Regions from separate parts of the Homo sapiens genome. Here region 2 is linked to region 1. Evidence: fine-mapped expression QTL. A gene starts in region 1. The other region holds a variant in brackets. All regions are shown on one strand. Distances are from middle to middle.

Region 1 (4,000 bases):
GCTGGTGGCAGGCCAAGTTTTCATTTGTATAGGAGTGTAACTTTGTAACTTCACTTCAGCCTCTGATTGGTCACTTTCTGCAACCAATCAGACTGACCATGGACCACTACTTCATTTGCATGGGGTATACACCAAGTGGCTAATGGGAAACCTCTACCGGGTATTTAGACCCCAGAAAATTCTGTAACCAAGCTCTTGAGCTGCTTGCTCAGGCCTGCTCTCACCTTGTGGAGTATACTTTTGAAACCGCCTTTGCAAAAATCATAACTGAGGAAATTATGACAGTGAAAGAGATCAGACCTAACCTACCCTATCTTCCTTCTAACTTCTAAAATGTCTTTGTTCATTCCTGGGTATAGGCCAAACTAGCCTTGGGAAAGAATTTATAGTGTAAACTCTGAGACAAAATTGATAACAGCCCTTTCCCCTTCTTGCTGGGACCAGTCTGCCTTTCTTTGTAGGTGTAACAAATTAGCTACAAGATTATAAATTACAGTTTAGGGGCCATGCAGCCTCTGGCTGCAAGAATCTGAACCTCCCCAAATTGCTTCTGGGAATAACATCACCATTGCAAATCCTAAGATCAGTGCTTGAGATATTTTGCAGACCCTGCATTCTCATGCAGCAGAGGACACCACCCAGACTGATAATCTGGCTCAACTAGCTCCACGATCCCACCCAGGAAGAACTCGCAAGAACTCACTTCGACCCCGTGATTTAATCTTCATCCCGACCAACTAGCACTCCCCACTTTCCGAACCCATACCTGCCAAATTATCCTTAAAAACTCTGATTCCAGAATGCTCAGGGAGACTGATTTGAGTGATAATGAAACTCTGGTCTCCCGCACAGCGCTCAGCGTGAATTATTCTTTCGCCATTGCAATTCCCGTCTTCATAAATCAGCTCTGTCTAGGCAGCGGACAAGGTGAACCCATTGGGCGGTTACACTTTCGTTTTCAATACATCTCTGCTTTTATTGCTTCATTCTTTCTTTGCTTTGTGCATTTCGTCCAGTTCTTAGTTCAAGACGCTAAGAACTTGGACACCCTCCACGGGTAACAGGACTACAGGTGCCCGCCACCACGTCTAGCTAATTTTTTGTATTTTTAGTAGAGATGGGGTTTTGCTATGTTGCTCAGGCTGGTCTCGAACCACTGGGCTCAAGCAATCTGCCGGCCTTGGCCTCCCAAAGTGCCGGGATTAAAGGCGTGAGCCACCGCGCCTGGCCCACTAAACTTCTCTGTGCATCAGTTATTTCATTTGCCTAATGAGGATAACAGTAGTCACTACTGCGTTTTGTGAGCGTTGGTTAATATATGAAAAATGCCACGTGTTTGCCATTAGCATCAATCATGCCATAACCAGAAAAATTACATTGCATTTTTTATTTTAAAAAAGGTGGGGGCCAGAGTGGACCTGGGCCTCTTCCAACTTCTGAGAGGTCTCTATTACTAAGTAAGCCTTAAGAAGCAGAATTCCATGAAGGGAGCTAGGAAACCAGGATTTTCCAAAAGGAGGTGGCATTTGCATTGATCCTGGTAGGGCAGCCTCGAATTCCACGGGGTTGGGGTTGCGCCTTTTCCAAGGCAGCCCTGGGTTTGCGCAGGGACGCGGCTGCTCTGGGCGTGGTTCCGGGAAACGCAGCGGCGCCGACCCTGGGTCTCGCACATTCTTCACGTCCGTTCGCAGCGTCACCCGGATCTTCGCCGCTACCCTTGTGGGCCCCCCGGCGACGCTTCCTGCTCCGCCCCTAAGTCGGGAAGGTTCCTTGCGGTTCGCGGCGTGCCGGACGTGACAAACGGAAGCCGCACGTCTCACTAGTACCCTCGCAGACGGACAGCGCCAGGGAGCAATGGCAGCGCGCCGACCGCGATGGGCTGTGGCCAATAGCGGCTGCTCAGCAGGGCGCGCCGAGAGCAGCGGCCGGGAAGGGGCGGTGCGGGAGGCGGGGTGTGGGGCGGTAGTGTGGGCCCTGTTCCTGCCCGCGCGGTGTTCCGCATTCTGCAAGCCTCCGGAGCGCACGTCGGCAGTCGGCTCCCTCGTTGACCGAATCACCGACCTCTCTCCCCAGCTGTATTTCCAAAATGTCGCTTTCTAACAAGCTGACGCTGGACAAGCTGGACGTTAAAGGGAAGCGGGTCGTTATGAGGTAATTCTGCACGTTTGCCCGCGTGCTCTCTGTGCTCTGTCGCAAACCTCTTTGGCCGGAGCCGACTTGTTCTCTCGTCTGCTCTAAGTTCTTTTAGCTTTTGGCTGGGCCCCAGGGGTCCTAGGCTTGGAGGGCGAGGCTGCTCACGGGTTTGGTGGTTTCTAGCCGCATTTTCCCCAGCCCAGAAAGCACCCGAAGTCACCCTTCGGGGATGGATCCCACTGAGGAAGGGCTGAGATTGCCGCTGGGACCCATTTTGTCCTTTTTCCTATTGGTGAAATGCAGTTCCGTTGCCTCCAGCTCCCAGTCGGCGAGATGGGACTTAATGCTTATCCTGCAAATCTCTAGGCTTCAAGGAAGGGACCTTGAAAGGTCATTTTACTTTCCCTTCCCCCACGCTCCTAGACCGTCGCAGCCAAATGAGAAACGGCCCACATCTCACAGGTTCCTGCACAAAAGGATATTTTTCCAAGAGGATGTTGATTTAACTTCAGGAGTAGACCCCCCCGCCCCCCGCCACTAAAGAATTGGGGTGGGAGGGTAGGGCGGGGCGAACTGGAGGAGGCCCTGCAGAGCTTACGTAACAGGCGTCTGCTGCCCTGCAGCGCGGTATCGTTGGACTCTTGGGCACAGGATTTGCATCAGGATTGTGACATACTAGGTAATGGTAGAGCAGGGTGTGGCTGCTCATACTTGCTGGCCTCCAATCTCATCCCCACGTGTGGCTAGAAAAGTAGAATTTTAAAATTGGGGGAAGTTTCCTCGTGCACTTTGGGTCTCTTACTCTGCGCATGTGGATCTCTAGTCACTTGCCAACACGGTTTCTCTCTTATCTGCCAGAATTGTTGGTAGAGTGGGCAGCTTTTACATTTATCCTTTTTGTCACGTGTGATATATTTGTGCATACCAGGAGCAAGGTGCAGGAGGATGAGTCGGTATGTAACTGATGGACTTGACTGTTCATATACCTTAACAGGATCCAAGAGTGGTGTTTTTGAGGGGTCATAAAGGTTTCTGTTGATAGCATTTTGCAACCTTGACCTTTTTGGGAAGTGGTTGATTGATGGGTAGGTATTTATTTGGCTGGTGTAATCTAGCCCCTTTTCCAATTTGGGCTGGTTCAAATGAGGGCTTGTGTTGGATATTAACAGACACGTAAGTCAGTAGGAGATCTCCCTTTACTCTAACTTTAAACATATGAGGACACGTTTGAGTTAGGGAACTGTATGGGTACCCTAAAAGGACATGTAGCTCTCCTCTTCTCTCTAATTTCACTTTGGTCAATATTTTTGCAGGTAACCGCTGCCCTGCTGTGGAGATAGAAGAACCCAATAATTTATGTCCATGAAAAATACCTGGTTTCCACATTTCCCCAAATGACATAGGCCTTTGTAATCTGGACAAAGTAGGAGTCACAGCCATGTTAGTACTAGAGGAGTGCCCTTTCTGGCCCTCATACAATCCTAAAAAAAGGGGATAGACCCTGTAAAAAACAGGACAGGTGGACATTGGCATGCAACTAGCTTTTAGGTTTTAATTAGTTCCTTGCATCTCCCCTGTGTTCGACGCTGATTCTTCCAGATGCATGGACCAACTAACAGACAAGGAGTGGGACATTATGCTGATAACCTTCCTGTAATTGCAGTCTTGGGCTTTATTTCCTCTCTCTCTAGGGAAACTGGCTTGAGGAAGCTAGCTGGGGGCGGGATTGGAGGAGCTGCTTAACTTTTCTCCCTCTGGACCTAATAAAGTTTCATTTAGCACACGCTAACCCAAAGCCTTGAAATGATTGGCTAGTCCTGTTTTGCTGATGGAAAATGACCTGTTCAGGGTTACTGAACTACCAAGT
Region 2 (4,000 bases), 840 kb after region 1:
CCTTGCTTTGGAAAATTTAGCTTTCAGAGATACTGAGACAAATAGTAGAAAGCAGGGTAATAGATTCTGGGGGCTGAAAGGGCCCATAGAGATCCAAATCCCTCACAATACAGTCAGGAAAACTGAGAGCCAGTGAAGTGAAGACACTTAGGTTCACTCAGCTTGTTAGTGGTATAGGTGGATCTAGGACCTGTGTCTTTAAACTCATGTTTGCCTTTTCCTACAGCAGTTTGCATCTCCCAGAGAATACTGTAAATTTATTTGTGACCCTGCCATTTTTTAGGATAGGAAAGGAGAAAGTATCCCAGATGACTTCAGAGTCTGGTCAGAGTGGTTCCTTGATCCTTTGAAAGCTAATTTTGACCGAAGTTCAGCCTTACTGGATAGCAAAGCCCATGAGTGAGGCACTCATTTTTTCAGTTATTATTGCTATTACTCTGAATACTAGCACCTCTCTCCTTCTGAGCTAAGATGACTAAATCAAAAGGAGACTTTCAGCTAAGGAGTCCCTGAAGGGAGACTGTGCCAAATCATTTGGAACCAGGATAAGGCTGGATAGAATGATACCAGATTTGGCTGTGCTTTCCAGGGGAGTAGGCTCAGTTCCAAGAATCCTGCAAGTGAGAATATTTTTATTTCAGTTGTTCAAATGGATGTGTGGAGTCATTATGATGTATATTAATTGGAGAATCTATCTCTTAGCAATTGCAGCACAGTAAAATTAACCACTTATGAAAGTAGGTGATATGCAGATATACTGAGGTGGAAAATGGTGTAAACTACAGTCAGAATCAGATCACACATTTGGGGCAATTGTTTTTGCAATGGTTCCTGTTGAACACAGATTCTTTGGCCAAATGCAGTTTATTTTGGGGCTCAACTGGGAAAGTTGTAGAGTTCAAGTTGTACAGACTACTCAAATCTGAAGACATCAAATGAATAAACACATTTATGGGTTGTTTTGGTTTGAAATAAGTGAGTTGGGGTTTTAAAAGACAGGCCAGCCTGCTGGGCTTGGTGGCTCACGCTGTAATTCCAGCATTTTGGGAGGCCGAGACAGGTGGATCACCTGAGGTCAGGAGTTCGAGACCAGCCTGGTCAACATGGCGAAACCCCGTTTCTACTAAAAAATACAGAAATTAGCTGGTTGCAGTGGCAGGCGCCTGTAATCCCAGCTACTGGGCAAGCTGAGGCTGGAGAATCGCTCGAAACCGAGAGATGGAGGTTGCAGTGAGCTGAGACTGTGCCATTGCACTCCAGCCTGGGAGACAGACCAAGACTCTGGCTCAAAAAAAAAATAAAAAAAAGATAGGCTGCCTATCTATACTATAGCTCTCTGTCATGGCTCAAGCAAAGAGAACAAAGCTGTTTATAGTAAAATGAGACTTTCTAAAAGCACTAACAATCAGGGCAATGGTTCCCCGGTGGTCTATGATTTATTTTAAAAGCTTTTGGCAAAAAGGTTTATTTATTCTTCAGATCAGTATATTTTGTGGAGAAGTTTTCTCCTAGTATCAGTTCATATACATCACAGGTAGAGTGATCAAATAGATAGATCAATACATAAGGAGTCAGAAGTCTGTGTTATAGTTCAAGTTCTGCCAATGACTGGTGTGGCCTTCGGTGAGTTATTTCATTTCTGTGCATCTCAATAATCTCATCTATTATAATGGGAGAGGGCTTGGAATAGATGGTTCCTAATTTCCTTCCTAGCAATCCAATGATTTGAGTTAGACTGTTAGATACCTAAGAATAGTTAAATGTTATGGAGTGGTGAATAATGGGGCCATAATAGGGAAATCTATCTAGAGAGGACATTCTGGAAATGTAGTTCAGATCTCCAAGAGAACTGAGTATCCTTTCCCAATTGCCATTATATTTCTTTCAGGTAATGTTATCATGACAGCTTCAACTTTTAGACCACAGGCAAATGCTTTGTAAGTAATTTCCCTTTTTTAAAAATGAGAAAATGCAAGA[C/A]AAAAGATAAAACTTTCTGAAATCTAATTTCCACAGTGACAATGACACTCAGTTGGCATTTCTCAATCTTTTAAACCCAAGGTTCCCTTTGAGAAACGTAAACATTTCACTACAAGGTTACTGTGAACTTGCCTTCCTAGGGACCAGACCCTGGACTTGTAGAAAAATCTGCTCCATCACATTGACATTTTCCAAGTACTAAGTGCCCAACAGTTAAGAGGATTTTGTAGATCTGTACTTTCACAGTTTGTATTGTAGAAACAATAATGACATTTTTTATTTTGTTTTCCAAATATATTTGTTATAATAAGGAATATGTTTTATCAAGTAACACTTATTTTCTACCCTTTAACTTTAAAAATTACTGCTCTAGATATTCTAGTCCTCTGCTACAACTACACTTCTTAGGGGATTTTCTAAATCCAGAAATGTACAGGATCCAACCAAAGGCCCTTGGAGATGACTCTGTGTACAAATAAAGAGGAAATGAACTCACATTTATTTAATACTTATTGGGTATCAGACATGAAAATAGGTACTTTTACACACATTTTCTTTTTTTCATTTCTATTTCAATATTTTTTGAACTACAAGTGTTTTTTTCTGTTGCATGGGTAAATTATATAGCAGTAAATTCTGAGATTTTTAGTGCACCCACCACCTCAGTAGTGCACGTTGTACCTAATGTGTAATATTTTTATGCCTAGCCTGTCTCACCCACCCTCTTCTGAGTCTCTAGATTCCATTATATCACTCTGTATACCTTTGCATAATCATAGCTTATCTGTCACTTATAAGTGAGAACATCTATTTTTTTTATTTTTCACTCCTGTGTTACTTTACTTAGAATAGTGGACTCCACCTCCATCCAAGTTACTGCAAAAATACATTATTGCGATCCTTTTTATGGCTGAGGAGTATTACATAGTGTATATACACCACATTTACTTTATCCACTCGTTAGTCAATTGGCACATAGATTCATTCCACATCTTTGCAATTGTGATTAGTAGGATTGCTGTATCAAATGGTAGATTTACTTGTAGCTCTTTAAGGAATCTCCATACTGTTTTCTATAGAAGTTGTACTAATTTACATTTCTACCAGCAGTGTAGAAGCTTTCTCTTTTATCCACATATCTACCAGCATCTATTTTTTTTTCACTTTTTAATAATAGCCATTCTTGCAGTAACGTGCTATTTTATTCTGGTTTTAATTTGCATTTCTCTGACGATTAGTGATGTGGAGCATTTTTTCGTGTTTGTTGGCCATTTGTATATCTTCTTTTGAGGAATCTCTATTTATGTCCTTTGCCCACTCTATAATGGGATTATTTCTCTTTCTATTGCTGACTTGTTTGAGTTCCTTGTAGATTCTAGTTTCTAGTCCTTTGTCAGATGCATAGTCTGCAAATATTTTCTCTCATTCTGTGGGTTGTCTGTTTACTCGGATTATTATTTTCAGACACATTTTTCTTTAATGCTCAAAACAAATTATGTGGCAGGAACCATTCTAATTTTACAAAAGAGGAAACTGAAGCCTGGTGATATGAAGTGAATTGTTTCAGGCCAGAGAACCGACAATTGAGACATGATATGATACCAGGTCTTCCAAAGAACATGATTATTTCCACCCATAAAATGCTGCCACAGCTGCAAAAATGATATCTAATTAGGCCGCCTTCCTAAATGATTGAAAGTCCAATACATATTCCTGCATGAAAGTTCAAATTCAAACTTTAAGTTGTTGTTTTGTTAATGGTCTAATTGCTTTAATTCATTTTAAGGATAAAAATAATTTTCACTTCCTCTAACAGAAGAAAATGTCTGTACTTGCAGAATGTGTCCAAATTTGTGTGTATCTCATGTCAACCAGGCTTATTTGGAGTTGATGTAGATTTATTCAGGAAACAGCAGAGTTTCCAATTCTAGCTGCTACTCTTTGGTTCTGGTTGTAAGCGGCTGAATGAAGAACACCGGGGTCATGGAGATCAGATTGGCTTGGATAATTCATGTGAAATTTA

Evidence for each region. PIP is the estimated chance that this variant, and not a neighbour inherited with it, causes the effect.
Region 2: its variant is the best candidate, but not a certain one, in a credible set for the expression of PGK1 in whole blood (TOPMed, PIP 0.68).

The regions. Positions count from the first base shown.
Region 1 is chrX:78,102,255-78,106,254 of GRCh38, forward strand. PGK1 (phosphoglycerate kinase 1) reads left to right here and starts at 1,994. Exons shown (of 11, transcript NM_000291.4): 1 at 1,994-2,151. The coding sequence starts at 2,087. RefSeq lists a silencer at 1,881-1,940.
Region 2 is chrX:78,945,927-78,949,926 of GRCh38, forward strand. It overlaps P2RY10 (P2Y receptor family member 10), which reads left to right. Exons shown (of 4, transcript NM_014499.4): 2 at 1,889-1,937. Among named protein-coding and RNA genes, the nearest start is that of P2RY10, 2.5 kb to the left of the region's middle. The variant C/A (reference allele first, on the strand shown) is at 1,978.